7 linked regions of the Homo sapiens genome follow. Each later gene encodes a partner of the first gene's protein in a complex. Each region holds a gene or a part of one and is shown in the gene's direction. Other genes may lie near its edges.

The links.
Region 2: SNW1 (region 1) and SNRPB share a complex: the UniProt entries of both Homo sapiens proteins name them as parts of the minor spliceosome.
Region 3: SNW1 (region 1) and CRNKL1 share a complex: the UniProt entries of both Homo sapiens proteins name them as parts of the minor spliceosome.
Region 4: SNW1 (region 1) and GPKOW share a complex: the UniProt entries of both Homo sapiens proteins name them as parts of the minor spliceosome.
Region 5: SNW1 (region 1) and SF3B2 share a complex: the UniProt entries of both Homo sapiens proteins name them as parts of the minor spliceosome.
Region 6: SNW1 (region 1) and RBM48 share a complex: the UniProt entries of both Homo sapiens proteins name them as parts of the minor spliceosome.
Region 7: SNW1 (region 1) and PPIL2 share a complex: the UniProt entries of both Homo sapiens proteins name them as parts of the minor spliceosome.

Annotation. Positions count from the first base shown.
Region 1 is NC_000014.9:77,719,573-77,723,369, reverse strand, and holds part of SNW1 (SNW domain-containing protein 1), read left to right. Parts: intron 1-92; coding exon 93-189; intron 190-2,541; coding exon 2,542-2,659; intron 2,660-3,797. UniProt on the Homo sapiens protein: Involved in pre-mRNA splicing as component of the spliceosome. As a component of the minor spliceosome, involved in the splicing of U12-type introns in pre-mRNAs.
Region 2 is NC_000020.11:2,463,698-2,467,789, reverse strand, and holds part of SNRPB (small nuclear ribonucleoprotein-associated proteins B and B'), read left to right. Parts: intron 1-31; coding exon 32-183; intron 184-1,970; coding exon 1,971-2,082; intron 2,083-3,890; coding exon 3,891-4,043; intron 4,044-4,092. UniProt on the Homo sapiens protein: Plays a role in pre-mRNA splicing as a core component of the spliceosomal U1, U2, U4 and U5 small nuclear ribonucleoproteins (snRNPs), the building blocks of the spliceosome.
Region 3 is NC_000020.11:20,035,467-20,039,734, reverse strand, and holds part of CRNKL1 (crooked neck-like protein 1), read left to right. Parts: coding exon 1-126; intron 127-1,284; coding exon 1,285-1,386; intron 1,387-2,163; coding exon 2,164-2,412; intron 2,413-3,372; coding exon 3,373-3,540; 3' UTR 3,541-4,268. UniProt on the Homo sapiens protein: Involved in pre-mRNA splicing process. As a component of the minor spliceosome, involved in the splicing of U12-type introns in pre-mRNAs.
Region 4 is NC_000023.11:49,113,388-49,117,655, reverse strand, and holds the end of GPKOW (G-patch domain and KOW motifs-containing protein), read left to right. Parts: coding exon 1-59; intron 60-493; coding exon 494-626; intron 627-1,332; coding exon 1,333-1,435; intron 1,436-1,641; coding exon 1,642-1,765; intron 1,766-1,860; coding exon 1,861-1,930; intron 1,931-3,717; coding exon 3,718-3,803; intron 3,804-3,900; coding exon 3,901-4,035; 3' UTR 4,036-4,249; downstream 4,250-4,268. UniProt on the Homo sapiens protein: RNA-binding protein involved in pre-mRNA splicing. As a component of the minor spliceosome, involved in the splicing of U12-type introns in pre-mRNAs.
Region 5 is NC_000011.10:66,061,962-66,066,229, forward strand, and holds part of SF3B2 (splicing factor 3B subunit 2), read left to right. Parts: coding exon 1-37; intron 38-1,047; coding exon 1,048-1,155; intron 1,156-1,438; coding exon 1,439-1,581; intron 1,582-1,666; coding exon 1,667-1,768; intron 1,769-4,268. UniProt on the Homo sapiens protein: Component of the 17S U2 SnRNP complex of the spliceosome, a large ribonucleoprotein complex that removes introns from transcribed pre-mRNAs.
Region 6 is NC_000007.14:92,535,287-92,539,554, forward strand, and holds part of RBM48 (RNA-binding protein 48), read left to right. Parts: exon of another isoform or gene 1-1,141; intron 1,142-1,147; coding exon of another isoform or gene 1,148-1,258; exon of another isoform or gene 1,259-1,564; coding exon 1,565-1,651; 3' UTR 1,652-4,268. UniProt on the Homo sapiens protein: As a component of the minor spliceosome, involved in the splicing of U12-type introns in pre-mRNAs.
Region 7 is NC_000022.11:21,686,208-21,690,475, forward strand, and holds part of PPIL2 (RING-type E3 ubiquitin-protein ligase PPIL2), read left to right. Parts: intron 1-275; coding exon 276-351; intron 352-684; coding exon 685-791; intron 792-1,435; coding exon 1,436-1,525; intron 1,526-1,865; coding exon 1,866-1,899; intron 1,900-2,524; coding exon 2,525-2,642; intron 2,643-4,268. UniProt on the Homo sapiens protein: Has a ubiquitin-protein ligase activity acting as an E3 ubiquitin protein ligase or as an ubiquitin-ubiquitin ligase promoting elongation of ubiquitin chains on substrates.

The DNA of each region.
Region 1 (3,797 bases):
TCTTTTTAAAAAATTATATATATACACACGTGTACACGTATGCACACATATAATACATATTACAGTGAAGTACTTTTCAACTGTTCACACAGAGGATGGGGAGGCACGTGAGAGGGATGAAATCCGGCATGACAGGCGAAAAGAGAGACAGCATGACCGGAATCTTTCCAGGGCAGCTCCTGATAAGAGGTAGGTGTTATTTAAGATGTGTACCAATCATGGTGGCCGGGCGCAGTGGTTCACCCCTGTAATCCCAGCACTTTGGGAGGCCAATGCGGGCGGATCACGAGGTCAGGAGATCGAGACCATCCTGGCTAACACGATGAAACCCTGTGTCTACTAAAAGTACAAAAAATTAGCCGGGCATGGTCGTGGCAGGCGCCTGTAGTCCCAGCTACTTGGCAGGCTGAGGCAGGAGAATGGCGTGAACCCGGGAGGTGGAGCTTGCAGTGAGCCGAGATCACGCCACTGCATTCCAGCCTGGGCGACAGAGCGAGACTCCATCTCACAAAAAAAAAAAAAAAAAAAAAAGATATGTACCAATCATGAAGAGTGGCCTTTTTGTACCTTTTAGAGCAGAGTTTTAGTCCACTAAGATCAGTTTTGCTTCTCTCCCTTTCTTCTTTAGTTTGATAACTTAATAAATTAGCACTTAATTTTCTTGTACTTAACTACTTTGTCTTAGCTCTAGTTGACTGTCTTTGGAATTAATCTTCCATCACTTAAGTCAGAATTGAGAATGATGGGAATATAGAAAACGGAATCGAGATCAGATTTTTGAAAAGGATGTAGTAGTAAATTTGGACTGTTATAGTCCGTTCTTTTTCTACCTCAAATGGTGAGATAAATGGATTATGTGCCTCTTTAGACAGGAAATAAGCTTTCATGCTTTTATTGAGATCATTTTATATGCATAGTACTGCATCTAGTACAATTGAGGAGAAGAGCAGTTTTGAAAGAAGTAGAAAATCAGCTCATTTTTAGGAGTAGTTTAACTTACAGTTCAGAAAGACAGAGCTATCCATAAAATAATTTGAGAAAATTTGCAAAGCACTCTTAGTAAGTATAAACGTATAGAACAAACTAAATATATATATGAGGGCATAGAGTAAAGTAGGAATTGGGGAAGTTTATGGCTCACCAAAGGCTGAGGACTAAAAGTTCTGAAAAGTAGAGGGAACGCTGCAATACTAAGGTGGAATTCTGAGTGAGGGTTAAATGCAAATATAGAATATTTTCTTCCCAAATGAACAGTTTTCTGTGCTCTGATCATCCCATGAGCCTAATACATTTTTCAAGTCATATTTTAAACACAAAAAAGAGGCCGGGCACAGTGGCTGACACCTGTAATCCCAGCACTTTGGCAGGCCAAAGCACGCGAATCACTTGAGGTCAGGAGTTCAAGACCAGCCTGGCCAACATGGTGAAACCCCATCTCTACTAAAAATGCAAAAATTAGCTGGGTGTGGTGGCACATGCCGGTAGTCCCAGCTACTCGAGAGGCCGAAGTGGGAGAATCACTTGAACCCTGGAGGCGGAGGTTTCAGGGAGCCAAGATCGTGCCACTGCATTCCAGCCTGGGCGACAGAGTGAGACTCCGTGTCATAAAAAATAAAAAATAAAAAAATAAAAATAAATAAGCATGAAAAAGATTCCTGCTGGTATTAATTGGCATATTTCATCTCCCTGGATAAATGATGTCATGGAGAAGCAAAGACTCTTACTCTTGAGAGTTGAGGGTAAAGTACATGTAGAAGGAGGAGCAAAGTGTGAAAGTGTTTAATTAATGACAGTCTTGGTTAGTAATTCCTAAGTTGTAAAAGTTACAATGGCTCTGTGGATAAATTGGGCCCTCAAAACGAGTAAAGTGGCTATCAGAATTGACAACATAGAAAAGCTGTGAAATTGTAACTGGATGAAAATCAAACAGCCTATAGAAATCATTTTGTGACCTGAGTTTTTAGTAAAACAAGTAATGACAGTTACCATGGTTTCATTGGGATGTAGGTTGCATATATAATGCAACAGCCAGGAAACCAAATTAATCTGAATGTCAAAAATCATACTAATTCAGTCATTGACATGTTTTCCTCAAAATTCTAGTGGGATAAAATTACTAAATGTGGTTAGATAAAAGAGCTGTTTCTAGCTTATTTAAAATGTTTCGTGTGCTACATCTAAATTGTATCCACTTCCCCAACCCCCAAACCATCATATAATGATAGTAAATATAGACCATAGCAATTTTATATCTCAGCATGGTTGTAAGGTGATTGCTTATATTAAAGAATTCCATGTCAACGAATCTGTTAGATGTTCTTTTGAGCTAACAGGACGTCCTAATTGTAAAACTCTCCCTCTAATCTGAAATGCTTTATAAGGGCTGCCAGCTTGATTATGTATCATCAAGGAATATATGTTCACAAGATGTGAATGTGACATATTCACATCCTTTGTTTCTGAGATTGGTTGTATTTCTATTGAACATATTCAGCTTGTCTATAAAGAGTTTTCAGTTAGTGATGTCGTATTTCAAAATAGGTCGAAACTTCAGAGAAATGAAAATCGGGATATCAGTGAAGTTATTGCTCTCGGTGTTCCTAATCCTCGGACTTCCAATGAAGTTCAGTATGACCAAAGGCTCTTCAACCAATCCAAGGTACAAGTTTAGGAACAGCATATTGTGTGTGTTGATGTGAATACCTATCCTCAGGGAAACGAAAATTAACATACTTTACATTTGGATGTAAATGCCAGCATGATGACAAAAAAATTGGAAGTTGTATGTTGAAACTTGAGACAAGATGAAACAGTTCTGATTTTAACTTCTTATAGTGGGCTGAGATTTGAGACACTAGGAGAAGAAAGAAATTAGGTGATTAAAAACTTGGTGTTGTGGTATGTCAACCTTTTGTTTCTAAAATAGAACCAGGGAGGCCAGGCATGGTGGCTTTTGCCTGTAATCCCAACACATTTGGAGGCCGAAGCGGGCAGATCACCTGAGGTCAGGAGTTCACAACCAGCCTGGCCAACATGGTGAAACCCCATCTCTACTAAAAATACGAAAACTAGCCAGGTGTGGTGGTGCACGCCTGTAATCCCCACTACTTGGGAGGCTGAGGCACGAGAATTGCTTGGTGAGCCAAGATTGTGCCACTGCACTCTAGCCTGGGTGACTGAGACTCTATCTCAAAAAAATAAAAGAGTCAGTGTCCTACAAAAGTGCCTCTTGGGTTTTTTTGTTGTTGATTTTTGGATTTTTCTTTTAATGCTATAGAAATATATCAATTTGGGATTCTTTTAAAAATGAAGCTGTAAAACGGGATTAAAGTACTAGGCTGGCTGTCAGGAAATCTGATTTCTAGTACCAATTGCCATTAGCTAACTAGGACACTTTAAGCCTGGGAAAACACACGCGGGCGCATGCGCACACACAAGAATACAGAAGTGTAAGTTCTACTGGAAAGTAGAGTGGGAAACTTAATTATGACTTGGAGGTTTTAAGTAAGCTCTTCTAAGTGATAATTTATTAGATGCATTTTATATTCTTGGCATTGTTCTAAGTCTTGTTATTATCTCAATTCTTACAAAAATCCTATGAAATAATACTATTATCTCTTATGTTATAGATGAGGAAATTGAAACACAGGTTTAGCTTGTGACTGATGGAATTAAGATTCAAACTGGGTGTCTTGATTTCAAAGTTTTTTTTGTTTGTTTTTGTTTTCTGATATGGAGTCCCACTCTGTCGCCCAGGCTGGAGTGCAGTGGTGCCATCTCGGCTCACTGCAACCTCC
Region 2 (4,092 bases), on another chromosome or scaffold:
GAGTCTCATCCCTGTCCATTTCTCCTTGCAGACGGTGGGCAAGAGCAGCAAGATGCTGCAGCATATTGATTACAGGATGAGGTGCATCCTGCAGGACGGCCGGATCTTCATTGGCACCTTCAAGGCTTTTGACAAGCACATGAATTTGATCCTCTGTGACTGTGATGAGTTCAGAAAGATCAAGTGAGGAGTGGACTGTGGGGGGCGGAGACTGGAGGATGGGAATGGATTGAGTGGGTGGGCCAAGCAATAGAGGTGGTGATGTAGCTAGTTGGTTCTTCTCTGTTTATTCTCCAGTTTTAGAGGGCAGACTTAAATGGGGACATTGAACGCTAAGAAATCTTTTTGAGTCCAGCAAACCTTGCTCTCTAGTCTAGCAAAGTACAAGTTGTGAAGGGCTGCTAGGCTTTTTGTTTCTCTCACTTTGCGTGCCCCTGGGTACTGGGGTAAAGGGCTCTCATGTTCTCCCCACAGGTGTGTGAGGGGGGAGAGCTTGAGTTTCTGGCCTCATTGCCTATTTGTAAAGCTGTAGCCTAAAGGGCTCTCCCAATGCAGCCTGGTCTGAAACTGCTTTAAGAAGCCTCTGACCCTCTTCAGGGTAAGTGCTCAGCTCCCCATGTGGGTTTGGGGCCAGTGATTTTTGTTGGCATTTATACAAACAATTGGAGATATTGTCTACTTTGCTACAATTCCGTAAGTTATTGGCTAACTCCCTTGCCTTGAGTCTCACAGATCTTAAGCTTTTGGCCCATTAAAAGATATGATTTAGCTTCCCATCATGTTTTACATTCAAGGCTACTTGAGGCACAAAAAGATGATGTGACTTCCGTGGCCAGCAGCTCTTTTGTCATATGCAGTGTCCATATTATTCTGTCACTCACTTTGAATTCCCTTTGATTCTCCTTGGGGCTGATTTCTTCTGTGACCCAAGGTCAAGAAGTATAGTTTAAAAATGTGGTAGGGATGCCTTGGTGCCAGGTACGTATTAGAGAGGGGCCAACAGATGAGCGTGGAGCTACTCCAAAGTTCCCTCCTGATTATAAAAAATGTTTATTGGAAAATATTTTTGAAAATACAAAGAAGTCTATGAATAGAAACTAAAATACCCCGAAGGGTTTTTTTCTAATTATGAAAGGACAATACATGGTTATTATTTTAAAAAATAAGAAAATGTGAGCCAAAAAAGGGAAAAACTGTCCATCCACAGACAACCAGTTAATATACTGTAAAATATCAAAACAAAATCTTTTGAGTTCTTTTTTTAAATCAGGCTATTTTTTCCCCTTTATTTTTAGGATCTAGCTTTAGCTTTTTTCCCCACTTTCCTATCCTGTTGCAGTTATTTTTCCTACTTCACATTTATATTTTGTTCATCTTTTTCTGGTTGTTGCTTTTTGGGGGTTTCTGTTTTTATGCTTTTGAGGAACAGATATGAAATTTCAATTTCTGTGTATGTGAAATTTCTCTTAACCTTTTCCTTCTATGGCTTCTCCTATTTCTGATGTAAGATGAGGGGCAGAATTATAGGCCTGTGAGGTTGAATTGATATTAGAAGGACACTGCACGTAAGTGAGGTGGGTGGGAGTCATTTGATTGGAATTGTTTAGGCAGCCTCCTGATGTTGGCAAGACCTTAAGCTGAAGGGAGGGAATAGGGTCCTAAGAAAGAAGACTTGGCTGAGGGAAGGGCCTTCACGGTTGCTGTGGAATAGCATTTGGGCCCGGGCTGGGCTTTGTTGACCTTGTCCTATCTCTTGGTCAGTGTGTCCTCTTGGCATGGTAGGAAACAGGTAGATAGCCACCTAAGAGGTTATGTGTTCAGCCTGTAGAGACTATCCAGGAGGGCTATCTTGGGAAAGTTTGTGTACTGTTTGTTAGGAGATGCAGTATAAGCAAATCTTGGAGGCCACTAGGCAGGTGAACTTTACCCACCTCTAACACTTTTTTTGTTCCTTCTAAACCTCTCTTTAGGCCAAAGAACTCCAAACAAGCAGAAAGGGAAGAGAAGCGAGTCCTCGGTCTGGTGCTGCTGCGAGGGGAGAATCTGGTCTCAATGACAGTAGAGGGACCTCCTCCCAAAGATGTAAGTCAGAGCAGGAAGCCTTGTGGAGGAGGGGAGGCCCTACTGTGAGCCAGGCTCTGTGTTAGATTCTGTTTCATTGCAGTTCTCACAGGCATCCTCTGGATTTTGCCCCCTTTTTCAGATAATAAATGAAATCTTAAAGAGGTTACCCTGCAAGAGGCCGGGCGCGGTGGCTCACATCTGTAATCCCAGCTCTCAGGGAGGCAAGAGGCGGGAGGATAGCTTGAGCCCAGGAGTTCGAGACCTGCCTGGGCAATATAGCGAGACCCCATTCTCCAGAAAAAGGAAGAAAAAAAAAAAGACAAAAAAAAAAAAAAGAGGTTACCCTGCAAGAAAGAAGTGGAAAAGGGGAACTAGAATTTGGGTATCTCAGACTTTAAAGCTCTACCTGTTTCTCAGTTGATGTACATAGTGAGTCAGTGGAGGAAGCACCTGAAGCCATCTGGGTCAGTTCTTAATGTGACGACAAAGCCTAGGTAGACCTTAAAAAGTTGTAACTCCGAAACAATAGGAAATGTGTGTATTTTGTTTTGTACAGTTACAGTTCATAGTTACTGAGAATCTACCTTGCGCCAACCACTTCAGTATTTTATTTGATCCTTTAGGTCTCTTTAGAGATAAATTCTCATCTTATAAATAGAATAAACCAGGGCTTAGTAACTTGCCCAAGGTGCCACAGCCACTAAGTGGTGAAACTGACATTTGATCTCAGACAGTCTTGATTCTGTAAACACCAAGCTACACATAGAAATAGAGCAGGCTTTAGAGACCTAGTCAAATTTGTTTTCCCTTTCCCTTTTTCATTTGAAGGGTTTTTTTTTTTTTTTTTTTTAGATTTTTAGATGGAGTCTCGCTCTGTCGCCAGGCTGGAGTGCAGTGGCACGATCTTGGCTTATTGCAACCTCTGCCTCCCGGGTTCAAGTGATTCTCCTGCCTCAGCCTCCCGAGTAGCGGGGATTACAGATGTGAGCCACCACGCCCTGCCAAGACGTTATTTTAATCAAAAGAGAATAATCCTTTTAACTTTTTAAAAATCCACATATATTATCTGGATTTTTTTGTACTTAACACATAGTGGGCATATATTATGTTGTTCTGTGTTTTCACTTAATGTTAACATTTTTCTAGTTGCTCAACACTTTTAAAGTCAAGTTAATGACTGAGATTTTCTCAAATGAGTACAGAGTAGTTTATCCTAATCATTTTCTTTTTTGGAGATTTTTACGTTTTTGCCTTTTCCAGTTAAAAATGTCTGCAAGGGATGTTAGCATATCTTGGTTCAAAGTCCATGTACATATTCAAATCTCTTAGTACCTACTTCCAGTAGAATTGGCTGGTCTAACATAACCCATCATAAACCTTTGTGATCACAACCAGTTGTACCATAACCATGTCATTTGCAGATAAGGCAACTCAGCCCGGGATTGTGGGATTATTTGTCCATTGTCACCTAGCGGATTAGAATCAGCTGGGAATGGATCTCATGTCCCTTTAATGCCTTGCCTGCTGAACCCTGAGTGGAACCCTGGCCCTTTGCTCTTGGTTTAACTTTCACAGGAGTGCATATAGGTGGTTGAGTTGTGGCATGTTTCTCTAGACTTACTCTTAAGTTCTACCCTGCTTCAGGGATAACTCATAGTCTTGGATGGAGGAAGAATGGTGTTGGCACACATGGAGAGGTAGTATTTATAAGCTATTTCGATAGTATTTATAAGCTATTTCGAGGGGCTCTCTTGGCAATGATATTCCAAAGTATACTTCTGATCTTCAGATCACTGGGCATCAGAGCATATTTGTTTATTTTTCAGACTGGTATTGCTCGAGTTCCACTTGCTGGAGCTGCCGGGGGCCCAGGGATCGGCAGGGCTGCTGGCAGAGGAATCCCAGCTGGGGTTCCCATGCCCCAGGCTCCTGCAGGACTTGCTGGGCCAGTCCGTGGGGTTGGCGGGCCATCCCAACAGGTGAGGAGTTGGGGAAAGGGTACCACCTCCTGGTGGCTAAAATAAAGGA
Region 3 (4,268 bases), on another chromosome or scaffold:
TTTGGACCTGAAAATTGTACCTCATGGATTAAATTCGCTGAATTAGAGACAATCCTTGGTGATATTGACAGAGCACGGGCAATCTATGAATTAGCCATCAGTCAGCCACGTTTAGACATGCCAGAGGTGAGCATCTCAAGTCAAATATAATTTTGTTTGAGATACGTGTTTAGTCTTACTTTAGATGACCATCTAAATGTGGGTGTATTTTAGAGTATAACGATGATCTAACTAACTTAGTCTCTTCTACTCAGATTAGGCTTGTACGTGGAAAGGTGGCTGTGGGGGACAGGGGAAGTAGCCCTCTCATTAGATACCAGAGCAGTAGACATCCAGGATGATGCCCAGGATGAACTGGGATATCATGGGGGTGGGTGACGCCCCTTCTGCAGCAGGAAAGCCTAAAGGGGCTGGGGAAGAGGCCAGGCAAGGAAGAAGCCAGCAGGCTGGCCCACCCGGAGAACGAGGGGGATGGAGGTAGGAACTGCACATCCCTGTATTCTCTAAACCAGGATGTCCTTGCAACTTCTGTTGTCACTGTCCTGAAAGTCCTCGCCTGCCTTCAGTAGTTAAGCTTGACCCACAAGGTAGCACCAAACCACAGCTAGGAAAGATTTGAATCTCACATGAGTCGTAGAACTCACCCAGCCGTTTTGTTAATCTCATGCACTAACATGACCCTGCATTTAATGGTTTGGCCCCCTGATTGCATTAATTAAGGCAGGGCTTTGGGTATCACTGAGTTCATCAGTTGTCCTCGGCTCCTCCACCAGACTGCCAGCTTTCAGGTGTCCATGCCACGGTTTATTCATCCTTATTCCCTGCCAGGCTGCACCGAGCCAGTGCGCACCTGTTCAGTGAATGCTTGTTGCACTGAACTCTCATAATAACAAGGAATGTACAGTAGAGGTAAGAACATGCATACTGGCTAACCTGGGCCTGTTTTCTCTCTGGACGCTCAATTGCGTGTGGCTAGAATATGGAGTACCTGGGAGATGCTTGGCAAGTTTCTCAGCTCTTGATAAGTCAAGCATTTGAAAAACTTCCAAAGAGAATCTCTAAGACTGAATCCAAGGCCCTTTTTCTGTAATCTGGAATTCTAGCCAAGTTTTGGCCAGCTTATAGATACCAATGTTATTTATCTTATCCACATGTGTTCTTTAGTTGTTCAGTAAAAATCCTATGTTCCTAGATGTAGGTTAGAGTGATACTTCAGCTGTGCTTTGGATGGGGGCATGCTGCTTTGTAAATGTCAAGACTGACCCATTTACTTTTCTTCCTTAGGTGCTTTGGAAATCATATATTGATTTTGAAATTGAGCAGGAAGAAACAGAAAGAACACGAAACCTTTACCGGCGGTTGCTTCAACGGACGCAGCATGTCAAGGTATCCTTGCTTTGTAGATGATCTTTCATTTTGCTTGAATCAGCAGTCCAGAAGAAAATGATATATTTCTGTATTTTAAGTGTTTGGGTTTTTGTTTTTTTTTTTTTTTTAATGACTTCCTTGCTTTTCAAGAGAAACGTGAGTCTCAGAGGACTTTGGAATGTTTGGAATGTTAAGTTTATACCAGGTCATTGTTTATGCTGCATGTGAGTAGCTTGGGTATCACAAGATTGAAAAAAAGTTAAACTATTTTTTTTTTTTTTGAGACGGAGTCTTGCTGTGTCTCTAGGCTGGAGTGCAGTGGCGTTATCTCGGCTCACTGCAACCTCCGCCTCCCAGGTTCAAGCAATTCTCCTGCCTCAGCCTCCAGAGTAGCTGGGACTAGAGACGCGCACCATAATGCCCAGGCTAATTTTTCTATTTTTAATAGAGACAGGGTTTCACCTGTTGGCCAGGATGGTCTCGATCTCTTGACCTCGTGATCTGCCCACCTCAGCCTCCCGAAGTGCTGGGATTACAGGCGTGAGCCACTGCACCCAGCCAAGTTAAACTCTTTTCAAGAGTTTAAGACTATGTCAGACATTTAATTGTAGAATGTAGAATCAAATATTTTCAGTGTTTATATTGAAGCATATATTCATTGTTTTCATCTGTGAAACATTAGTGATGCACACATTACTTTCCGATGTCATTAACTGGGAATTCGCTTTATTATTACTACATTATTATCTTCTGAGTGATATGGTTAATTTGGTTCAATAATAACTTTTTTTAAAGGTATGGATCAGCTTTGCTCAGTTTGAGTTGTCTTCAGGAAAAGAAGGAAGTTTGACTAAATGCAGACAAATTTATGAAGAAGCTAACAAAACCATGCGAAACTGTGAAGAAAAGGAAGAGAGACTTATGCTGCTGGAATCTTGGCGAAGTTTTGAAGAAGAATTTGGAACAGCTTCAGATAAGGAGAGAGTAGACAAACTCATGCCAGAGAAAGTCAAGAAGAGAAGAAAGGTCCAGACTGATGATGGGGTAAGAACTCTGCCCTGGGACTGTTCATCTCACGTCACATGAGTAGAAACACTTCTGACGTCGAAATGTGGACTTTTAAGTGGCATATGTACAATCTTAGAATGGAAGCAGACCACCTGGAGTAGGAGATGGTTGCAATCTGGCTGTTATGGAAACACGGGGTAGAACATATGGTCCAGTCAGAGGTGGAGAACGGGAAGGGGTTGGCAAAGGTGTTTTGGTGATGGTTGAGTCTGGGAACTTCATGAAGTGTGATATTTTTAGAGCATTTAATAGGAAGTAAGTGTGGAGGAAGATGGAACTGAACTTTCAGATAGGAGCCTATCCAGAGAAGGCTTGTAGGCGGTAAGAAGGAGTTTGGTGGGAGTCAGTGAAGGCTGTTTTGCATAAAATGACGTGACCAGATTGCTAGCCTCTCATCCTGGCAGACTCAAGGGGCTTAGATTGGAGAAAGAAGACCCATCAGGAAGCAGTTTTTATAAGCTGAGCAAGACATGGAAGCTGGAACTAGAACAGGGCCACAGGGCCTGTTAGAACAATATTTGGGAAGTGAAATCAGTGACTGATAGGAGGTGAGGATGGGAAGGTAGGGAGTTGGAATAATAATGCACAGATGTATGGCTTTTGCTACTGGGTGAATATTATGTAAAGATCGTTAAACGTTTTCTTAAGTGTAAGACTGCACAATGTAGTTGGAGACACTGAACATCTTGGTTGGCTATAGAGGAGCTGTGCTTAGATTTTTAGAATGTTTTTCTACCAGTTTAGTTCTCACTGAGCTACAGTTGCTGCTTACTCACTCCCAGTCTTTCAGACCCAGCCCTTGTTCTTTCTGTAGTAGACTTTGATGTTATTTTGTAAAATGGAGGTAATCATCCGGATTTCCAGTAAAAATTCTTCACTCTGATATGTGAGTATATCACCCACGTTTGCTTATCTTTTCATTTTTTATTTCTGTAGTCTGATGCAGGCTGGGAAGAATACTTTGATTACATCTTTCCAGAAGATGCTGCCAACCAACCTAACCTCAAACTCCTGGCCATGGCCAAACTGTGGAAGAAACAGCAGCAGGAAAAGGAGGATGCTGAGCACCATCCAGATGAGGACGTCGATGAGAGTGAATCCTGATCTTTTTTTCATAGACAAATGTTTTGTTATTTTTATAAATTAATTGTTTGGAACTCTTGTGACTCCTGGAAGTTCTTATATATTTCACCAGTAAGAAATTGATTGGTATCTTTGATGGCTACTTTTTAAGTTATTTTTTAAATGCTCTTGGGTTAGCTAGGGGTAGGGATTGCAAGTAAAGGACTTTTTTAACTGCTGGATTTGTTTTTCCAACTGAGTCCAAACTTTTCTAATGTCTGTCCACATCATGCATTAGGAAATGTAATTAAGGTAACATTCTACAGTTACTTTTCATGTCATACCCATAAAGATAGTTTATGCATTCATCTGAAATGTGTAACTTTTTCATGTCTTCAGAGTCACAGACTTGAGTTCATTTCCCAGCTCTGCCACTCATGATTATATAACTTAATTTTCATTTTCCTCATTCACAAAATGGGCCAATAGTTTGACAGCTCATTTTGAAGATTACATTATAAAAGGAATATACCTGGTGGGTGCATAGTAAGTGCTCAGTAAATTGTTTGTTCTAAGCCACTTTTAAAAATGGTTTCATTCCTTGTAGAATTGAATGCGAGTGGATTAATAATTTACCTTACTTTCTTACTAGTGTCCAGTTATATTGTTTTTTAGAACAACACTTGGAAAATAATTTGCAGTGATTATATTTCTGAACAAGGTTCAGAAAACATTGTTTACTAAGAATTTAGTCTAATAATTTCAGTTAG
Region 4 (4,268 bases), on another chromosome or scaffold:
TGGTGCCTGGAGGAGCTGTGGTGGTTCTTTCTGGCCCTCACCGAGGCCTCTATGGGAAGGTAAGGAACCAAGATATCCCGGGAGCCCAAAACAGGCAGCAGGGAAGGTTGATCCGAGGGTCAGATGGAGGAATAATTGGATTTGAGGTAGAAAGGCTGGGACTCCTAGTCTTTTAGGTCTGCTTGGCCCACTGCCTCACTCAGTAACCCAGGACCACTTGCTGGCCTTTGTGAGCCTCAGTTCCCAGCTAAAAGGAAGAGAATGCCATATGCCACAAGTCCCTGAAGATTAAATGCTTAAAGGATCCAAGGAAGCCCCACAGTCAGCTGAGGGAGACACAGGAACCAGACCTGGTCCCACTTCTCAGGGGTCAGAGTCTGGTTGGGGAGACAGAGGAAGCAGGCCTCTTAGAGGTAAGGGGTTGACATCTTGGTCCTAGGAATGTGGGTGGAGTCCACAACCCCTACCTGACTTCTTCCCCTCAACACTTTAGGTGGAAGGCCTTGATCCTGACAATGTTCGGGCCATGGTTCGTCTGGCTGTGGGGAGCCGGGTGGTGACTGTTAGTGAGTACTACCTGCGGCCTGTCTCCCAGCAGGAGTTTGACAAGAACACCTTGGATCTCAGTGAGTGAGCCTCTTGTAGAGCTAGGGGAGTTGGCAACGCATTCCTAGGGGTGGCAGGGCCTGGCTAATGGGGTGGTTTTAGATCTGCAGCAGGGAGGGGCAGCAGTGTGCCTGGCAGATATGACTTCCAATCAGAGGTCAGGAGGTGAGAATGGACATAAGTGACTTACTCCATTTGATTGGAGAAAGGTCGATGTCATACCCCTGGGTCTGTAGCCTGTCTGAGTGAGAAGAAACAGGTGCAGAAACCAATTCCTACCTTCGAGATCTTTGTCCATTTGGGGTGATGAACCTCTCTTTTACTAGGGAGTGAGAACTGCTAGGATTAGGGTGTGACCAAGAAGGAAGGAATTCTAGGCAGACAGAACAGCACAGGCGAAGGCGTTTCGGTAGGACGGGGCAGTTTGGCAAATGGGTACAGACAGAGCTCTCTGGGAATCTCTAGTCCACACTAGGTGAGCATTGTTGTTGTGGGCTAGGTTGGCTGCGGGAGGGTTCCTGAAGGAAGCTGAAATGGTTGAGAGGTGGGGGAGAGGCATTCTACTAGCAAATGCATGAGGGGTGAGAGGGGCACTTTGGCAGGTGGGAGGTGGCTCTAGGCTGAGACATGGCCTTGGAAGGAAAGGGCAGTGAGACACTGAGGCTCTGTCCTGGTTCTCCTCATAACCTCTTGAACAGGCCAGATGAGCAAAACTTCCTTCCCCAGGGCAACAGAACGGAACTGCCTCATCACGGAAGACCCTCTGGAATCAAGAACTCTACATCCAGCAGGACAACTCAGAGAGGAAGCGGAAACACCTTCCAGACCGGTGGGACTCTGAGCATGCGGGAGGGGTCAAGAAGGCAGGGCTGTGGGTAGGCTCGAGCAGCCAGGGAAGGCTTCCAAGGCAAGGCGGGCTCATAGAAGGAACGGGGAACTGCATTGTGGGTGGGTTTCATAGCATAGGCAAAGGGAGGGCAACTGGAAAGTGCATCTGATGAAGAGCTAAGCCTGGTGCTGGCACCTTCTCCACAGACAGGATGGGCCTGCAGCCAAGAGTGAGAAAGCAGCCCCCAGAAGTCAGCACTGGTTGCACAGGGACCTGCGTGTGCGGTTTGTGGACAACATGTACAAAGGAGGCCAATATTACAACACCAAGGTGGGAACCCTGCAGCCTGAGTCCCCCTCCCTCTCCTAGGGACTGGGCCCCCCTACCTCTCTAAAATCTCACATCCCCCTGACCTGTATCCCCAGATGATAATTGAAGATGTCCTAAGCCCAGATACCTGTGTATGTCGGACAGATGAAGGCCGAGTCCTGGAAGGTGAGTTTGAGCGATGGCAGCTGGAGGTTGATCAAGAAGAGTGTTTTAGGCCCAGAGCCTGGCCCAGGCAAAGCTGGGAGGTTTGGCAGAGTTCAGGTATTTTGCAAGGCCTAGCATCCTCTTACAGAACATTAGACACTTCCATGATGGTGGTTGGTTATCTTGAGCCCCACTCTCCCAGTCTGTCAAGTTTTCTTTTTTTTCTTTTTTTTTTTTTTTGAGACAGAGTCTCACTCTGTCACCCAGGCTGGAGTGCAGTGGCGTGATCTCAGCTCACTGCAACCTCCACTTCCCAGGTTCAAGCGATTTTCCTGCCTCAGCCTCCCGAGTAGCTGGGATTACAGGCAAGCGTCACCACACCTGGCTAATTTTTGTGTTTTTAGTAGAGACAGGGTTTCACCATGTTGACCATGCTGGTCTTGGAACTCCTGACCTTAAGTGATCCTCCCACCTCGGCCTCCCAAAGTGCTGGGATTACAAGCGTGAGCCACCGCGCTCGGCCTCCGGTCTGTCAAATTAGCATGGAATTTACTATTTCTTCCTCTTGTGATTGGTGCCTTAGTGAAGGAATGTGTATTGAGCTCTCAGTGCAGGGCAGGGGTTAAAACATGCCCACAATAAAAGGTGCCTGTTGTTATCACCACCACCCTTTATTACAGTGATTTTTGTAAACTACTCCTTAGGCTACCTCATCTGTGAAATGGATGTGGCGGGACTCCCATCTGTCAACAGGGTGTAGAGTGGCTCCAGGGAATACAGGAAAGGCCCTTCTTTTTTTTTTTTTTTTTTTTTTTTTTTTTTTTGAAACAGAGTCACTCTGTCACCCAGGCTGGAGTGCAGTGACGCAATCTTGGCTCACTGCAACCTCCGCCTCCCGGGTTCAAGCTATTCTTCTGCCTCAGCCTCCTGAGTAGCTGGAACTACAGGTGCCCGCTACCACACCCAGCTAATTTTGGTATTTTTAATAGAGACAGGTTTTCACCATATTGGCCAAGCTGGTCTTGAACCCCTTACCTCGTGATCCTCCTGCCTCAGCCTCCCAAAGTGCTGGGATTACAGGCATGAGCCACCACACCCAGCTGAAAGGCCCTTCTTTTTTTTTTTTTTCTTTTTTTTTTTTTGAGATTGGGTCTCATTTTATCACCTATGCTGGAGTGCAGTGGCACCATCATGGATCACTGCCACCTCAAATTCCTGGTTTCAAGCCATCCTCTCACCTCAGCCTCCTGAGTAGCTGGGACTGCAGGCACTGACCACCATGCCTGGCTAATTTTAAAATTTTTTGTAGGCTGGGCGCGGTGGCTCATGCCTGTAATCCCAGCACTTTGGGAGACCGAGGAGGGTGGATCACCTGAGGTCAGGAGTTTGAGACCAGCCTGACCAACATGTCAAAACCCCATCTCTACTAAAAATACAAAATTAGCCAAACGCAGTAGTGGGTGCCTGTAATCCCAGCTACTCAGGAGGCTGAGGCAGGAGAATCGTTTGAACCCAGGAGGCGGAGGTTGCAGTGAGCCAAGACCACACCATTGCACTCCAGCCTGGGCAACAAGAGCCAAACTCAGTCTCAAAAAACAAAACAAAAAAATCTGTAGAGATGAGGTCTGACCATCTTGCCCAGGTTGGTCTCGAACTCCTGGGCTCAAGCGATCCTCCCAACTTAGCCTCCCAAAGTGCTGGGACTACAGGTGTGAGCCACCACGCCTGGCCAGGAAAGGCCCTTCTGACAGGACGCTGGTTGGGCTGGTCCTTGCTGTGGGCCTCACTCCCCTCTCCCTTATCCATAGGCCTGAGGGAAGACATGCTGGAGACCCTGGTTCCCAAGGCAGAGGGTGACCGTGTGATGGTGGTGCTGGGCCCACAGACTGGAAGGGTGAGTCTCAGACCTGGCAGTAGAGGTTTGTGGGTCGTTCAGGGCCTGTCCCAGGGTCTAGGCTTGCCTTGCTGATTCCACTTCACCTCTGTTCCAGGTGGGACATTTGCTGAGCCGGGACAGAGCACGGAGCCGGGCTTTGGTGCAACTGCCAAGAGAAAATCAGGTGGTGGAGCTTCACTACGATGCCATCTGCCAGTACATGGGCCCTAGTGACACAGATGATGACTGACCCATGGGACTCCTCCCATCCCCCAGGCTGGTACCAGTTCTGTACCATATGAGAAAGTTGCCTTCAGAAGGTGGGAAGATCATTGTTCCATCCTCTACTTCTGGTGCAGTCCTGGGACAAGGACAAGGGAAAGGGATGGGTGAACCAGTAGGGAAGCTAGAAACAAACCCAATATTTACCAAAATTTAGGGTATAATAAAAACCATTTCAAGTACTTAATAGAAAGATGAAAT
Region 5 (4,268 bases), on another chromosome or scaffold:
CCTGAAAATCCCTGGGCTGAACTCGCCCATCCCTGAGGTGAGCATTGTCCTTTCGTTCATTCTTGGCCATTTCTGCTTTTGAACTGGAAGGTAATTTGTTTGTTTTCCTTCTCTAACTCCACCATGTGTCTCTTTATTTACTTAAAAAATATTTTATTGACATAATATTTGTCATATACCATGTGTATGTGTAGAAAAACAAATAATGGTTTTTGTTTTTTAAAGAAACTGACATGCTCATCATAAAATATTCAGTCAGAATTGACAAGTACAAAGATGAAAGCAAGTCACAATTTTACCACTCAGAAATAGCCAAATTCACTGTTTGGTGAATGTGTTTCCAGATATGTCTCTGAATATTAAGAATGACCAGAGAGAAATAATTTTATCTCAGCCAGATGTGGTGTCTCAACACCTGTAATCCCAGCACTTTGGGAGGCTGAGGTGGGAGGATCCCTTGGGGCCAGGGGTTTAAGACTAGCCTGGGCAACATAGTGAAACCGCACCTCTACTTTAAAAAAAAAAAAAAAGAAAAAAGAAATAATTTTTTTTTAGCTTCACTTCAGTCTCTCAGAAATAATTTTATCTCAAGAATGTCTTCAAATTTCTTATTTTAAAATAAGCATTAAAAAAATTGATGAGTCATTAAAGTAAAACAGTAGTATTGTTAAATTTTAGATAGAAATTTCTGCCCCTTAAGATAAATAGATTCTGAACAAGCTAGCTTTCCAAAGTTAGGAAAACTCAATAAGAAATTGAAGTCATGTTTTCAATGTACGTATTTTGGTTTCAGACAGTAAAGACTCTGCCATGACAGAAGTTATTAGCATACTTTCTGCCTCCTGTCTCCTTATCCTGTTGCCTCCAGATTTTAGTTGTTTATTAATTTTGGTTTCTAATGCTTCATAACATTTGATTTAATTCTGCAGTCATAATTTCCGGAGTTCCCAAGTATCAGCTCTGTACTTTTGAGTGTGCCTTTTCTCTAGGGCTTCAGAATTTCTTTTGCAGCTAAGGAGTGAACTGATTGTGCTCACTGTCTTGCAGAGCTGTTCCTTTGGGTACCATGCTGGTGGCTGGGGCAAACCTCCAGTGGATGAGACTGGGAAACCGCTCTATGGGGACGTGTTTGGAACCAATGCTGCTGAATTTCAGGTATGGGCCATGTACTAGCGATCTTGGTTTTACTTAATGTCATGAAGGTTAGATTGTTGGTTTATAGCTTCATTATCAGGGAGTTGTGTGTTCTGACACAGCAGAGCCTGGAAAAGGGCATACATTTTCCTGAGATGTTAATGTAAGCTCCTCACTAGAATTTGAGCTCTAGGTAGGTAGGGATTATTGTGTTTTGACTCTTACACCCCTTCAGCTTAAAACAGCCTGGCACATAATAGGTACTTAGAAAACATTTGTTGAATGATAAAGTGATCTCTTTCAGACCAAGACTGAGGAAGAAGAGATTGATCGGACCCCTTGGGGGGAACTGGAACCATCTGATGAAGAATCCTCAGAAGAAGAGGAAGAGGAAGAAAGTGATGAAGACAAACCAGATGAGACAGGCTTTATTACCCCTGCAGACAGGTGGGGGAAGCAGAGAATGCCTCTTGGAAGTGGGCTATCTTTGGGGTCCTTCTCTTTACTCCAGAGCTTGTTCCTCTCTTTACAGTGGCCTTATCACTCCTGGAGGCTTTTCATCAGTGCCTGCTGGAATGGAGACCCCTGAACTCATTGAGCTGAGGAAGAAGAAGATTGAGGAGGCGATGGACGGGTAAGGGTACCAGACAGGGCTGAGAGGGGAGGACCTTCACTTCCCTTTGGCTGGCTGGCTGACTGTTGTTCCTTTCTCCCTCATCCTTTTTTAAACAATTATTGAACCAACTCTCTGCCAGGCACTACTGTAGGCAGTGAGGAGTCAGCAGTTGAGGTAAACTGGTAATCAGAGAACAAGATACTTTCAGATGTAGATAAGGATGTTGAAGCAGAGGAAACTGGGTAATGGGATGGGGTGGCAGGGAGGCCTTTGGGAAGGCCTCACTGGGGAGGTGGTGCTTGAACTAAGACCCGAATGAAAAAGCGCCAGCCACAGGATCATCTGGGTCAGAAGTAACAGTAAATGCAAGCAAGTGCAAAGGCACTGAGACAGGGATGGGCTAGTATTTTGAAGCTCCATTTTTAGGTAGTTGAATGTGTAGTGTTGTTAGGTCTTCATGAATTGACCCCTTTATCATGAAATGACCCTCTCTTTATCCATTCTGCTCTTTGTTCCCTTTTTCCTGTTTTTCTACCTTCTTTTGGATTACTTGAACAATTTTTATGATTTCATTTTATCTCCAGTGTTGGTTAATTAGCTGTTAAGTTTTTGCTTTGTTATTTTAGTTGTTGCTCTGGGGTTTATAGATCATGTCTTTATCAGGATCTACCTTCTCTTGATGTTACACTGCTTCCAGATAGTATTAAGAGCCATTATAGTATACTTCATTTCTCTCCTCCCAATTTTTGCACTATATTGTCATATATTCACTTTTACATATGTTATAAATCCTATACTATATAGTTATTATTTTTGTTTAAATGGTCAGTTATCTTTTAGGGAGGTTTAAATAAGAATCATGCATGAAGCCATGTAGTTACCATTTTTGTTTCTTTCATTTCTTTGTGTATATCCAGGTTTCTATCTGATATCATTTTTCCTCTGCCTGAAGGGCTTCCTTTAACATTTCTTAAGTTAGGGGGCGTGGTGGCTTAAGCCTGTAATCTCAGTACTCTCAGTACTTTGGGAGAAGGCTGAGGTGGTAGGATTGCTAGATTCCAGGAATTTGAGACCAGCCTGGGCAACATAGTGAGACCCCATTTCTACAAAATATTAAAAAAACATTTCTTGTATTGTGGGTCTGCTGGTTTTGAATTTGTTCTGCTTGAGTAGTCTTAAAAATTCTTTATTTGGCCTTCATTTTTGAAAGATCTTTGCCAGGTTTAGGATTCTAGGTTGACAATCTTTTTTCTTTCAACACTTTTTTTTTTCTTCTTTGAGATGGAATCTTGCTATGTCGCCCAGGCTGGAGTGTAGTGGTGTGATCTTGGCTCACTATAACCTCCACCTCCTGGGTTCAAGCGATTCTCCTGTTTCAGCCTCCCGAGTAGCTGAGATTACATGTGCATACCATCACACCCAGCTAATTTTTATATTTTTAGTAGGGATGGGGTTTTGCCATGTTGGCCAGGCTGGTCTCGAGCTCCTGGCTTCAAGTGATCCGCCTGCCTTGGCCTCCCAGCTTGTTGGGATTACATGTGTGAGTGACCGCATCAGCCTTCTTTCAGTACTTTTAAGATGTTGCTCCAGTGTCTTCTTTCTTGCATTGTTTCTAGTGAGAAAACTGCTGTCATTCTTACCTTTGTTCCTGTGTACATAATGTGTCATTTTTATTTGGCTGTTTTTAAGATTTTATCACTAGTTCTAACAATTTGACTACAATGTGCCTTGGTGTAGTTTCTGAATGTTTCTTTGCTTGGGGTTTTTTAAGCATCTTAGATCTGGGTTTTTAGTTTTTATTAATTTGGGGAAAATTTTGTCATGATTTCTGCAGATATTTTCTCTGTTCCCTTCTCTTTCCTTTGGGAACTCAAATTATTCCTCTATTAATGAAATAATAAATGAAAAAATAAATGAAGAGCTCACTGATGCTCTTCATTTTTAAAGAAATTCTTCTCTCTTTGTATTTCACTTTAGAAAATTTCTATTGCTATATGTTCAAGTTTACTATTATTTTCTTCTGTAATTTCTGATCTAACAGTAATCCCATACAATATAATTCTCCTTTCTAGAAGTTTGATTTCGGGTCTTTTAAATCTATTCTTTCTCTCTTAACTTTTTGAACATGTGGAATGCAGTTATAACAATATTTTATTTTTATGTTATTTTATTTTATTTTATGACGGAGTCTTGCCCTGTTGCCTAGGCTGGAGTGCAGTGGCGTGATCTCGGCTTACTGCAACCTCTGCCACCCAGGTTCCAGCAATTCTTGTGCCGCAGCCTCCCAAGTAGCTGGGACTATAGGCGTGCGCCACCCCACCCAGCTAATTTTTTTGTATTTTTAGTAGAGACAGGGTTTTACCATGTTGACCAGGCTGTTCTTGAACTCCTAACCTCAGGTGATCTGCCTGCCTCGGCCTCCCAAAGTGCTGGGATTACAGGCATGAGCCACCACACCTGGCTATAACAACATTTTAATGTATTGTCTGCTAACTCTAACATCTGTGCCATTTCTGGG
Region 6 (4,268 bases), on another chromosome or scaffold:
GTAGTTCTAATATGAGCCAAAGTTGAGAAGCAAAAGTATTGTAAATTATTTCTCTCAAATTTAGAGTTATTACAGTTTATATCAAATTCAAAATGCTTAATTTGCTTTTGTGATAAAGAGCAATAGAAGGTGGTGAGATTTCTAAAAATTAGGCCTCCAGGTATGCATTTCAAATGTAGACTTCTTAAATGATCGGGATCAGATTGTGCTGCCTAGGTAGTCTGTTTTTTTTTTTAATGTCATTTACATAATCATTTTCCATTTCCTAAGCACAAATGAAGTTAACATCTGAGTTAGCTTTTGAAAGACACCTTTTTGTGGGGTAGGGACTACTGTTACAAATCATAAACTGAGGGTTATGACATTCTCTTATACTTACTCCAAGATGCAGAAACTGCTTTTCACATAGTTTTACTCATATTTTACAATGTGATTAAGGGAGGCTAAGGTAGTTTAATTTCATATATGTACATTTTTTACCTAAAAATATCTGATTAAAGGTATTATTTAATAATAATTAAAATCCGTGGGCACAGTTTTGAAGCCTTCTTTAGCTTTTCAGTTTAGGCTGGGCCCAGTGCCTCACACCAATAACTTCAGCACTTTGGGAGGCTGAGGTGAGCAGATTGCTTGAGCCCAGGAGTCTGAGACCAGCCTGACCAATGTGATGAAACCCCATCTTTACCATAAATATACAAAAATTAGCCAGGCGTGGTGGTGAACTCTTGTAGCTACTTGGGAAGCTTAGGTGGAAGGGTACTTGAGTCTGGGAGGCGGAGGTTGCAGTGAGCCAAGATCATGCCACTGCACTCCAGCCTGGGTGACAGTGTGAGACCCTGTCTCAAAAAAAAAGGTTTTCAGTTTGTGCTGCCACCCTTACTTCCTTCCTTCAGTTACAGCTGAACTGAGGCATAGACATAGATACATACCTGTCTCAACCAGAGCTGATTACATTTTCAAGATAAACGTGTGAAGTCCAAATTCTAGGTCCAGAAATAGAACAACAAAAAAAAGATATTAAATACAGTTTACTATAGTTTCTAATAATTTTCCATTTCAAATGAAGACTCTTACTTTGCTTTGACTTATTGTATACTCTTTGTACACTCTTTTTCTGATGGTGTGTTTGCTTTTCCTTTTTCTCCAGGAAATTGAGGATTATACTGCTTCCTGCTCATTTCTCCAAAGGTTTTCATCCCCCCAAATCTATCAAACGTTATCAGTGTTTCAAGAATGCAAAACCAGGATATCTATCTGAATCCGTAATATAACAAGTGTCTTTAGATCTATAAAGGAATGTTAAAGTAGAGCATATGTTCACTTTTCTTCCTCCAAATTTTTTTTCTTTTTAAATAGCTTTAGAAATTTTACTGTCATCAGTATTCAAATGGAAGACTCCACTCTGTGCCTAGGTCATAGGCTGTACCTTGAACTTAGGCGAACTCTGCCTCGAAAGTGACATCAAGGATTGAACTATTGGATGTAGTCTTACCTCTTCTAATAGCTTATTTACTCCTGTGCTATAGAAACTAAGTTTTAATGGTTCTTTTTTTTTTTTAATTAGGTAATTTCATCTGTGCCAAAGCCTCCAGAGGACAAGCCAGAAGATGTACATACAAGTCATCCATTAAAACAAAGAAGAAGAATATAGAGTGCCAGCAGCAACTTAGTATTTTCTAAAAAGAACATTTATTATTTATTTTTAGCCTGTCATTTTAATTCTTCAAGAGATTTTACTGCTGGTATTTTTTAATGCACTCCTCTTTGTAATTTCATTCAAGCCATTTGTCTAAAGTCATTTCTTTGTTTTTTGGGAGATGGAGTCTTGCTCTGTTGCCCAGGCTGGAATGCAGTGGCGTGATCTCGGCTCACTGCAACCTCCACCTCCCGGGTTCAAGCGATTCTCCTGCCTCAGCCTCCTGAGTATCTGGGATTACAGGCGTGCACCACCATGCCTGGCTAAGTTTTGTGTTTTTTTTAGTAGAGATGGGTTTTCACCATATTGGTCAGGCTGGTCTCGAACTCCTGACCTTGTGATACACCTGCCTCAGCCTCCCAAAGGGATGAGCCACCGCGCCTGGCCCATTTCTTCTTTTTTTGACCCATACTTAATGTTGCAGAAACTATTCTTGTCATAACATTATCTCTCATGTACAGTAATTATATGTAAATTAATTGAAGCAAATATGGAAACTTTACAATAGAAATAAAGATAGGCAGCCAGCGTCTGTTTCCAATTATAATACAAGTATTGAATGAACCATTGAAACACTAGAAGTCAGGATGTTTCCGAATGCCAGGGTTTCAAAATCAAGACAATTCTATGAAGTAAAAAGTAGATTAGCTATTAGAACAAAGCTGAAATTAGAACCTTATATGCTTTAAATAACTTTTAAGAATTTGCTTGACCTGTGGCAATCCAAAAATACATCAGTATTTATAAATTCTAGACTTCTGTTACTACTTCTGGCATATCCACACTTTTTTCTGTCAGTGGATTACATAATTGGAAATTTCAGTACATCTAGACTGTCTCTATTTTCTTTTTCTTTTTTTATTTTTAGTAGAGACAGGGTCTCACTGTGTTGCCCAGGCAGGTATTGAACTCCTGGGCTCAAGTGATTCACCCACCTCGGCCTCCCAAAGTACTAGGATTATGGGTGTGACCCACTGTGCCTGGCCATTTTCTTTACTGATAAAAATAACTTGAGAAGGTCCATACCGTGGTGTGTTGTTTTCATTTCTCCCTATCTTTAATGGCCTCTTGCCTAGTGGATTGAATTTGAACATACCAGTTAATAAGGTTCAATTTCAGCTATGATGTACTTGTAGCAGGACGAGCTGCAGACAAAACCCCGCAGACACCAGGTTATAGAAAGAAGAGGCTTTATTCGGCCAGGAGCGTCGGCAGACTTGTGTCTCAAGAACCGTGCTCCCTGAAGAAAAAGTTCCTGGTCCTTTTAAGGGCTTACAACTGTAAGAGGGTCTGCGTGAAAGGGTTGTGATAGACGGAGCAAGTGATCTATAGGCAACACATGGTTAGAGTTGGGGGGTTAATCTTTAACCTCAGGCCTGGTCAGTGGCGTCGGTTGGTTTTGCCACTGGCTCCATTCCTGTTGTTTTTCAGCTTTTACTCCCTCCTCCTCTTCAGAGATGGGAGACAGGAAGAGAAATGGCCTCTCTCCTCACACTGATCCAAATTAACTAGGATGGCTCCAAGTGGTAGATGGTACTAACAGCAAGCTGCAGATAAGGAGGGTAGGCCCTACTTCCATGTGAGGTAATTAGATACAGTTTTTGCTGAAATCTCAGGTAAAGGATATATTAGAGACCTAAGCATAGAATTGGAAGGAGCAAATTGCTGTCTGGTTCAGGCTTCTCAGACTATAAGTTGCTATGATCTCCACCTCAGGATCTTGTTAAAATGCAGATTCTGGTGGTGGTGGTGGCCAGGGGCTGTGGGGAGGGAAAATGAGGAGTTACGGTTTAATGGGCATAGAATTTCAGTTTTGGAAGATGAAAAGAGTTCTAGAGATCTGTTGCATGACAAACGTTACCTGACAGTTAAGGAGAGGAGCTGCTAAATGGGTCGTGTGTTTCTGAATGGGTTCCTGATAGTCCTGTGACCATGCGGAAGCCAGCACTCCTCATCCCCACCAACATAATTCATCATGAGGAGAGACAGAAAGAAACCTTTGTGGTGTCAAGCAGCAAAACAAAACAAAAAGATTCAAATTAAGTTGGTTTGGGTGGGGCCTGAGATTCTGCATTTTTCCCAAGTCCCTAGGTGCTGCCAGTGCTGCTGGTGCACAGACCATCTTTGAATAGCAAGGCTCTAGATAACTGGGCTACAGATGAACTCTGGAAGCAGCTGAAGAACGGTTGGCTGTTCCATCCTAAGCAGTTACTCTGATCTAGTCCATTATGCTATATACTGTTTTCGCTCATCTCTTTTCAGATTGGAAGCCTGCCTTTTACACATTGCTTTTTACCACACGTTTCCAGAAAGTTAAAATGCGGGGTAGAGGGAATAAACTACAGGGAGACAAATAAATTAAAGAGATGAGTTGAGGTGGATAAGGATAGCTTAATAACATGCAAGCTAATTTACAAAATTTCCATATAGGTTATTATTTTGGGCACAGTGGCTCATGCCTATAATCCCAGCACTTTGGGAGGCCAAGGTGGGAGGATCACCTGAGGTCAGGAGTTCAAGGCCAGCCTGGCCAACATGATGAAACTCCATCTCTACAAAAAATACAAAAAGC
Region 7 (4,268 bases), on another chromosome or scaffold:
CCTAACCCTGAGGTGGCCAGTCCTGTGTGGTATTTTATCTCCAGGGTTTCACCTGATATCATAAGAGTCGGGATCCAGTGGAGGCCAGGGGACCCTGGCTTGGCCTAGCCTTGGCTTCTTCCTCCTGCTGGTTGGGGAGGCCCTCCTGGAGGAGAGGCACCAAGCAGGGCCTGGGGGGCAGGGGTGGCGTGTGGTTGGCTTCTAGGCAAGCGACACGTCCCCACCCAACTGCCTCCCATGGCACTGCTGAGGTGCCACCCTGGTTTCCTTGGCAGGCCCACTATTCCACAGGGAAGGTCAGCGCTTCCTTCACCTCCACCGCGATGGTCCCGGAGACCACACATGAAGCAGGTAGCCACCTTGGCCTCTGTAGCCACCTGCCATGTGACCCAAAAGTGGCAGGGGGTGGGTGTGCTCCCCGACTCCCACTTTATTGGTCTGTCAGGGGCTCCCACTGTCACCTGAGCCCCTAGTCCTCCCCCTCTTAGCTGCTGAACCCCTGCCAGCCCCATGAGGCTGGGGTGAGCCTGTGCGTGGCCTAAGCAGACCCTCGGCCTCCAGCTCCCCTGCTCTCCCCAGAGCTGGAGCCTAGTCCCCGCCTGTGTGTCTGAGGTCGGTGCTGCCTGGCATGGTGGGGCTGCCCCAGGGTGAGGGCAGGGGCTGAGCTGGGACCTTGGCTTGTAGCTGCCATCGACGAGGATGTGCTGCGCTACCAGTTTGTGAAGAAGAAGGGCTACGTGCGGCTGCACACCAACAAGGGCGACCTCAACCTGGAGCTGCACTGCGACCTGGTGGGTGTGGAGGCCAGCCACTCCCCATGCCCCAAGGTCATCTCTGGGTCATCTGACAGCCATGTCTTAAATATAGGGCTGCCACTGGTATGTGCTTGTTGTAGGAAATTCAGCCTGTCACTAGGCGGGACCCGCAGCAGTGCCCTGTGTCCTTCCTAGGGGGCCGCGTTGGCAGCATGGCCTGCGCACAGGTGCCAGTGTCTCAGAGAAGGGGCCAAGCCGCACCTGCTGCTCTGCCCACACTTCTCCCATGCGCTGTACTCTGGGCCGTGCGGCTGCACGGGTCCTGTTGCTTAATGTTGTGGGTCCATCCGTGCCCAGTGTGGCTGGGCAGCTGACTCTGCTACATGTTAAAGACCAGCCTGGCCAACATGGGGAAACCCGTCTCTACTAAAACTACAAAAATTAGCCAGGCATGGTGGCGCATGCCTGTAGTCCTGGCTACTCGGGAGGCTGAGGCAGGAGAATGTCTTGAACCTAGGAGGCGGAGGTTGCAGTGAGCCAAGATCGCGCCACAGCACTCCAGCCTGGGCAACAGCAAGACTCCACCTCAAAAAAAAAAAAAAAAAAAAAGCCTCCTGTGGCTGTGGTGAGCTGCCTTTGGCAGCTCTCTGCTTCATACAAGTATTGGGGCTATGTTGCAGACACCAAAAACCTGCGAAAACTTCATCAGGCTTTGCAAGAAGCATTATTACGATGGCACCATCTTCCACAGATCCATCCGGAACTTTGTGGTGAGTGACGAGAGTCACTGGCTGCACAGATGAGCTTGGTGGGACATCGGGGGCTGGGTGGGCTTGTCCCTGCCCCATCCCAGGGCCCTGGCCCATCCCACGGTGGCCAGGATGAGTCCAGTTGGTGATCCTCTGTTGGGGAACCCATAGACTGACCCTTGAGGCCCCAGCCCATCCAGAACTGGGTTCACAAAGGGAGGTGGCTGGGAGGGCCCCTCATTATCACCAAGAGCCCAGCCCCTGTGTGGAGCCATCTGGCAGGAGGGGTGTCCTTCAGTCAGGCAGGCGGTGGGCCTCGGGTCTCAGAGTGTGACTTGCTCACTGGCTTTTGTTTTCACAGATCCAAGGGGGCGACCCCACAGGCACAGGCACGGGTAGGTACTGGTGCTGGGCCCCTCTCTGGGCACTTTGGCTGCTCCGTGGGGCATGAGGGGGTAGCTGGGCAGGGGTTGTGCACAGCTCAGACATGGAATCTGCTAGACCAGGGTGGAACGACTGGCAGCCATCAGTGCTGTGCCCCCTCAGGCCTGGCCCTCAGTTTTCTCATTTCCAGGTGGCTGTGAGGCCTGCATGGTAGAGGAGGCAAGAGTGTGTGGTCTCTTCCCTGGGCCCCTGGGGTCTGCCTCAGACTGAGGCCAGCCCTCCCTCCTGCAGCCTCTCCAAGCCCCTCAGCCTGGCAGCTGCTTGGGTCCAGATCCCCCAACCTCTGTATTCCCATAGCTTGAGTGATGATGATGGTGGCCTTGACTCTTTAATCCCTGTCCCGGGGCAGGCCCCAGGCGGGGCTGGGGTGAGTGGGCAGCAGCCTGCCTGTTTGGAGGCGTGGGGGCTCCAAGGGACCCAGGAGTTGGTGGCGTGGGGCTGGGAGCCTCCCTATCAAGTGCCCCTGCCCCAGGCTGGGCTCAGCAAGGCCCTGATGCCCCTCGGGACTCTGAGGTTTCTAGTTCTGCCTCGGCTGGGGCCCAGGCTTTCCTGCTCCCATGGGCCTTTCTCTTCCAGGTGGGGAGTCATACTGGGGGAAGCCCTTCAAAGACGAGTTCCGGCCCAACCTCTCGCACACGGGCCGCGGCATCCTCAGCATGGCCAACTCCGGGCCCAACAGCAACAGGTCTCAATTGTGAGTCAGCTGGGCTTGCTGGGGTGGCCTGGGAGGTGAGCCGGCACTCTCTGCGGGTTCTTCCTCTTGGCCCTCTCTGAAGGGTGTGCTGGTTCTGAATCATACCCAGACGGTGTACGGCACACCTAGGCCAAGCATGTGCACCTGCGTTCAAAAGGGGGTCCCCAGAGTGAGTCAGCAGGGAGAGCTGCCCGCACCGGGTGTGTCCTCGAGAGACCAGAAGTCGGGAATTACTGGAGGTCCAGAAGGGCTTCTTGACAGGGACCAGGCATTCGTGTGGGTGCCTGTGGCCAGGCAGTGCTGGGGGAGGTCAGCGTGTGGGAGGGGTTGTGCAGGGCACAGGCTGCACAGGGAGAGGCGCCTGGAGAGACACAGGAGGTCTGGCCCTGGTGCATGTGGGGAGCAGTGTGCAGTCTGGTGGCAGGAGGCAGGGGATGGGGGGCCAGCAGGGCCATGCACACAGGGGCCGGATGCCTGTATTGTGGAAGAACAGAGGTGCCCTTTCCATCCCCAGACAGTGGCCTGATGTTATGTTTCAGTCTTTCAATCGTTTTCTTCACATGGGTCCTGTGACTTCCGGGATAAAGCAACCTCTTAAGGATTTTTTATAGTTTATGATACTTTTGTAAATGGACTTTTTTTTTCCCAACTTTTGGGGATCATTGCTCATGTAGAGAAAAACTACCGTTCATTTTATATCTAGCCACTTTAACAAATTATCTTATAATTCAAAAGTTTTTAAGATTTTTTTGGGTTTTCTAGATAGTCACGCTTATCACCAAAAGCTGGTCTGCTCTCTGCTTCCCTGGTGTGCACATCAGTCACGTCACCGTCACGTCACCGTGGGCCTGATGGGGGAGGAGGATGTGGGCATCTTGCTGTGCTCCACAGAAATCGCTGTTTTGCCTTCTCAGAACATTTGTTGTTGGGCTGTTTTTAGGAGGGTGGCTGACTTTTTAGAGGTTTCTTTGTTAGCATCTACTATGATGATTCTGTCCTTTTTCTGGTCCTCCCGGGATTTGTGGATGTGGCCACTACAAGGCCAGAGTGGATGGGTGTCTCCGTGGCATTCTGGGGTGAACCCTGGCCTGTCGTGGCTTCGCCGTGGCCTTCTGCCAGCTCACTGTCACACGTGGTCTCGGTTGTGTGGACTGGCTCCAGCAGGTTTTGCTGTGACAGGTGTGGCCCCTGCATGTTACGAGCAGGGCTGGCTGTGGCTTTGTGGCCTGGAATGGTTAAAATCACAGGGATGGCCAGGCGTGGTGGCTCACACCTGTAATCCCAGCACTTTGGGAGGCTGAGGTAGGTGGATTGCCTGAGCCCAGGAATTCGAGAGCAGCCTGGGCAACATGGCAAAACCCGATCTCTACAAAAAATAAAAAAAATTAGCGGGGCATGGTGGCGTGCGCCTGTAGTCCCAGCTGCTTGGGAGGGTGAGGTGGGGGGATAATCTGAGCCTGGGAAGTCAAAGCTGCAGTGAGCTAGGATCGCGCCACTGCACTCTATCCTGGGCAGCAGTGAGACCCTGTCTGGAAAAAAAAAAAAAAATCAAACGAGTCAGCTGTGCTTAACAGCTGGGCAAAGGCAGCTGGCAGCTATTCGTGCCACTTCCTTGGGGCTTTCATT